2 separate regions of the Homo sapiens genome follow, and region 1 is linked to region 2. A link means that fine-mapping ties the variant in region 2 to the expression of a gene that starts in the linked region. Tissue or cell type: lymphoblastoid cells. Region 2 holds a variant in brackets; the other region holds the start of a gene. All regions are shown on one strand. Distances are from middle to middle.

Region 1 (2,681 bases), 83 kb before region 2:
GGTCCAATGTCCGGTGACCACGGCCATATAGCAAGAGGTCACAGTCAAGCACTGTTATTGGTATAGCCATGGTAAATGTGAATGTTGGCTCTCCTCTTTGCTTTTTCTGAACTGTTCCCAATGAAGATGTTGGTGCAAGAACGTATTTTTAAGAAAGTATCAGAATCCAACAGCTAACCACAGTTAAATGGCTCTGCCATTTATAATCTTCTCTCTGTAAATGTTAAAAGAAAAAACATTAGGAACCTACCAAAGACTTTAAAGTGACTCAAAGGCTGGAGCAGCTCCTTTTCTACAAATTTCCATTTTGTTGAGGCAAAACGTACTGTACTTACAACTCCGGATTTTTCTCCACTAACTCATGGCTGCACGACAGGCTTGCTCTGATTCAAGGATAATGGGAATTCAATCTTTGTGGCTCATTTAATGCTTGGCATTTCAATTGAGAACACCAAAAGAATAATGGAGGTGATGACATAATTATTCACAAGGTAAAAGAGGTCGGCTTCTAACTATATAGGCCAAGAAGCAGCTGACATATGTCATAACCACCTTGGGTAAGAATTGGTCACGGGTTTCATTATCCAAAGACTTCTGGTTTCACCTGACAAATACAGGACAGATGCTGGGGTGTTCAAACCAGTCTAACAAGAAAAGAAGGGGCAAAAAAAAAAAAAAAAAAAAAAAAAAAAAAACAACCAAAGTCCACAACCCAGCCTTATGGACGTACACTGTGTGCTGTAACAAAAGGCTTTTCCCTCACTCCAAGAACTCCAAATCGTGAACCTGAGGGCCAGGAAGTACGGAAGACCAGACACATTGGAAGTCGGGAGCGAAAAAGAGGCTGGCCGAACCAGGTTTGGGAAGCGACTCTGCCACTTTTAAAGGGCACCCTAAAAACGGATGTCAAAGTCTGATTGCGCCGGCCACTCAGTTAGCCCAGGCCCGTCACCCACCTCTCCGCGGCTGCCAGGTTACCAGCCACACTTCCCACCCACCCAGCCGGGTTGGGCCCTCCTCCGGAACCGGCGACTGCACAGAGGCCGCCACGGCGCGCAACAGCGGCACCGCCCCTTCCGCGTCAGCGCCCGCCCCGCGCCGCGCCCTCACTGCCGCTGCCGCGGCTACCTGCGGTTCATCTCCGCACATTCCACACGCGGCCCAAACGGTCTCTCTCTCTCTCTCTCAAACACCGCCTTTCCGTCTTTGTTTTATCTTGAGTAGCTTAGAAAGATTGGAGAAGAAAGCTTACGTGGAATGAAAATCAACTTTTATGGATATTTTGAGGACTAAAAGAATAAATAGGGCGTCCGTACTGTAGCGAAAGTGCGACTAAGGTTAGGCATCTGGATTTCCCCCGTAGCCCTCTTTCACCCCCCCCCCCCGGCCATTACCGAAGCGGATGAAAACAAACACTAACGATGGCGGCGCCGGGAAGCGACCGGCTGCTGGGCTTAAGGCGGGAGTGACCGCTTAACCAGTGAGGGAAGCACTGAAGAGCGCCAGTCGACGTGGGTGCGACAACTCGCGGAGTCTTAGGAGCAAAACGTCTGGGGCCTGCGAGCCAGGACCCTTCTGAAGCCTTAGGTGTCTATCGGCGACGTGTACGGTCACTGCAGCTCCGGAGCGCGGAACCCTCAGCCAGGAGGCGCGGCTGGTCGGTCCCAGGTCCCGGCCTCCGTAATGAGAGCCCGGAACCACTCTTTGTGCCGCAGCTTCGCAGGTACTAACTTTTGCGGGGGATACCCCAAGATCTCTCAGCGCCCCCGGGTGGGAGGCTGTGGATCTGCGGCCCCTTGGCTGCTGCTTCGTGGAAGTAGAAGGGATTAGCCACGGTTCAATCCCCTGGGCCCCTGAGTTTTCTGTGGGAAGTTGAGTTGGTCTAGGCCCCGTTGGCCCCTGCTTGTTTGGCAGAGAATCCCCTCCACCCCAGAGCTTTCCTCTCCACTTTTTCAGCTCCTTGGGTTAGGTCGTCAGGCGTTTTGGAGGTAATTTGGGGGGCCATAACTCCGGGGTTGGGTGCCAATATGAGTGAGGTAGGTTTTCATTCAATCAAGATTTGCTGAGTGCCAAATATGTACTCCGCGTGTAGGTGAGGGTGACTGTTGACTAGTGAAAAAAGGGACCCATGGTTCACGACTGTCTTCTTACTGGCAGTGGAACGACCTGTGGAAACCTGTGATCCATTCTCATTAAATAAATCTCTGGGTAAGTGGCTAAGCACCTTCTTGAGCTCATCACTAATTCTTCCCAGTTTTCACTTTTCCAGTGAGTTCCCAGTTAGCCTGGTCAATTCAGCGTAGCATTTCACTTTTGGTATTTCTTCGTTCTCTGGCCACCCCGCAGCCAAAAAGAAAAAAGAGATTTTAAAAAATTACCTATTTTCTCATTACACTTAGTTTAAAACTCATCTCCTAAGGTGATAGAATTTATTGGACACCTTTAGTGGGAGATGTATTATAATAAGAAACAACAAGCTCTTCCTTTACACTAAATTAGCTTCCAGATTTTGTGTGTTGTTTTATGACTGTTAGTCCTTTTCATGTGTGCATGTAGTGGCTCCAGCTCAATTATGAGGTTTTTTTTTTGTTGTTTTCAACTCTCCATTTATCAGCTCAGGAGAAGTCTTTTAGTTTTTTAGATTTTAAAATTTTTATTATTATTATTAGAGATAAGGTATT
Region 2 (2,681 bases):
CTGAGATTAATTTTTCCATTCTCAGCAGGTAAACCTTTACAAAAATCTTAAGGATCACCTTAGGCAATCACTTTTAGGAAGTTGTAGACTTTTCTGAAATTGGTAACATGTGTGGACTTTTTCCCTAAGAAAACTTAGGAGATGTATGCAATTTTAAGAGGTTCATACACCTTCTGAGAATCACTGTTTAAGAACTTCTGGTCTATTCAGAATGACACCTGATATATAGTAGATGCTATCATTTGTTGAATGAATGAACCAATTAATTCATCTCCTAAGTAAAGAAGGGAACCCACACTTGTTGAGGGCCTATATAGGACCATGAACTGGGGACACAAACTCAACCTCACGATAGCACTGATGAGGCATGTTCTACTAAGCTCATTTTACAGTGAGGAAAGAGAGGACCAGCCGGGCACGGTGGTTCACGGCTGTAATCCCAGCACTTTGGGAGGCCGAGGCGGGCGGATCACAAGGTCAGGATTTGGAGACCAACCTGGCCAAGATGGTGAAACCCCATCTCTACTAAAAATACAAAAATTAGCCGGGTGTGGTGGCGCGCGCCTGTACTCCCAGCTACCTGGGAGGCTGAGGCAGAAGAATCGCTTGAACCCGGGAGGCGGAGGTTGCAGTGAGCCGAGATCACGCCACTGCACTCCAGCCTGGGCGACAGAGTGAGACTCCGTCTAAAAAAAAAAAAAGAAAAGAAATCATATTCTCAACGTTGGAATCGGCCTCCCAGTTGCAAATCCCACCACAATACAACAGCAATTACAACTCTCAACTACAATTATGTTTGCATAGAGCTTCACGGTTTACAAAGCCCAGGTTACGTTTTGCAATTATCCTGTTTCACAGATTAAGAAGTTGAACTGAGGCCGGGCGCAGTGGCTCACGTCTATAATCCCAGCACTTTGGGAGGCGGGGGCGGGAGGATCACGAGGTCAGGAGTTCGAGACCAGCCTGGCCAACATGGTGAAACCCTGTCTCTACTAAAAATACAAAAATTAGCCGGGCGTGGTGGCGGACGCCTGTAATCCCAGCTACTCAGGAGGCTGAGGCAGGAGAATCGCTTGAATCCGGGAGGCGGAGGTTGCAGTGAACCGAGACTCCAGCCTGGGCAATAAGAGTGAAACTCCGTCTTAAAAAAATAAATAAGTTGAACTGAAAGCGTGGCCTAATAAGTGGCAAGGAGGAACACTTCCCCCAAATTTCTTCTTCTTAGTGCTTTGCCAGATCAGATCTGGGAGATTTCCCCCTCCCGCCGGCTTGCTGGATGACAGCGATCCGGCCTGGACTCTGCCCTGGGGAAGGCAGGAAGAAGGTAGTGAAAATGATTAAGTCCTCTTATTGCAGGCGCCAAAATGGGGCAGAAACCCTGCAGGAAGGCCAGGCCTCTGAGCCCAGTTCCACCCCCGTTCCCCTCCTCGGATCTGCTCCGGTCCTCCCCATCC[G/A]GACCCCATCCCTTCGGACGACCTGGCCAGCTCCTTTCCTTTCCCCATCCCCACCCGGGGAGACCCCGCGCCCAGCAGCTCACCGCGCTCGGGCACTGCTCCCTCTGCCACGCCTGTCAAGGCTCGGCAAACATCCGGCTCCGCGGTGGAACGGGAACCGCCCCCTCCCGCTCTCTTCTATCCCCAACCATTTCCGCCACACCTCCAACCCACTTCCGGCCCCAAACATGGCCTTTCCAGGAGCCCCGCCCACTTCCTGCACATGCCCGCCTAAGTTCCTGCCTCGGGGAGGTAACAGCATAACTGTCCGACTCGTCGCTCCCAAAGAGATGGCTGGAACAATTAGTTCCGCTTTCCCAGCTAGTCGAATCACTGGTGCACCTCCGGAATCCGAGGTTCGCATTGCTCTCGGACAGAGTTCTGCCTCCCCAGTACTCCCAAACTCCCAGTCCTGTGCACCAATGAGGTCCAGCTCTGAGGCTTCTTTCCTGAGAAAAAAATTTGGAAGTCCGTGACTGTTTCCTGGAGGAGCTGAGAAGAGGAAGCTCACTTCCGGCGTAGGGAGGCTTTCTGACCCGGAATGGAGGAGGCGGAGGAGCTGCTCTTGGAGGGGAAGAAGGCGCTGCAACTCGGTGAGTGACCTGCGATGTCCGCGACCCTCAACCTTGGCCCAGGTGGATCTGACGCTCTGTGGTCAGCTTTCTCCTCAGTCTTCTCTCCTCCGGATCCCAGGATCCTCCAGTGCCCTCAGAGTCGCTGGGGGCTTCTGAAGAGCCCTTGAGCCTCCTCAAAACTTTCAGGGCCCTCCTTAGAGCCCTCACCTGTCCCTCGGGCTCCGCAGGCCCACCTGGACCTGCGGTTTCCTCCCACACTTTTCCCCACCTCCCACCTTCTTGGGTGGCTCCCTCACTGTCTTCCCTTCTCTCTGCAGCCCGCGAGCCGCGCCTGGGCCTGGACTTAGGATGGAACCCTTCCGGAGAAGGCTGTACGCAGGGCCTCAAAGACGTCCCACCCGAGCCGACCCGAGACATCCTCGCTTTAAAGAGCCTTCCCCGGGGCTTGGCCCTTGGCCCCTCACTCGCCAAGGAACAGCGCTTGGGGGTCTGGTGTGTCGGGGACCCCCTGCAGCCCGGCCTGCTGTGGGGGCCGCTGGAAGAGGAGTCTGCCTCCAAGGAGAAGGGCGAGGGAGTAAAGCCACGGCAGGAGGAGGTATTGAAGGATAGAGCG

Alleles and levels. Alleles are on the strand shown, and positions count from the first base shown. SD is a standard deviation of normalised expression in the study named.
As copies of A replace G in region 2, the expression in lymphoblastoid cells of the gene that starts at base 1,386 in region 1 goes down (moderate effect, 0.65 SD a copy in GTEx).

What was found. PIP is the estimated chance that this variant, and not a neighbour inherited with it, causes the effect.
Region 1: ATG13 starts here. The variant in region 2 is fine-mapped to the expression of ATG13 in lymphoblastoid cells (GTEx, PIP 0.96).

The regions. Positions count from the first base shown.
Region 1 is chr11:46,616,168-46,618,848 of GRCh38, forward strand. ATG13 (autophagy related 13) reads left to right here and starts at 1,386. Exons shown (of 19, transcript NM_001346311.2): 1 at 1,386-1,723. HARBI1 (harbinger transposase derived 1) reads right to left here and starts at 1,060. Exons shown (of 3, transcript NM_173811.4): 1 at 957-1,060; 2 at 1-214. The coding sequence starts at 70. RefSeq lists an enhancer at 1,193-1,372 and a silencer at 1,352-1,646.
Region 2 is chr11:46,699,014-46,701,694 of GRCh38, forward strand. It overlaps ARHGAP1 (Rho GTPase activating protein 1), which reads right to left and starts at 1,606. Exons shown (of 13, transcript NM_004308.5): 1 at 1,538-1,606. It overlaps ZNF408 (zinc finger protein 408), which reads left to right and starts at 2,018. Exons shown (of 5, transcript NM_024741.3): 1 at 2,018-2,086; 2 at 2,386-2,663. The coding sequence starts at 2,035. RefSeq lists a silencer at 1,362-1,481 and an enhancer at 1,812-2,101. The variant G/A (reference allele first, on the strand shown) is at 1,455.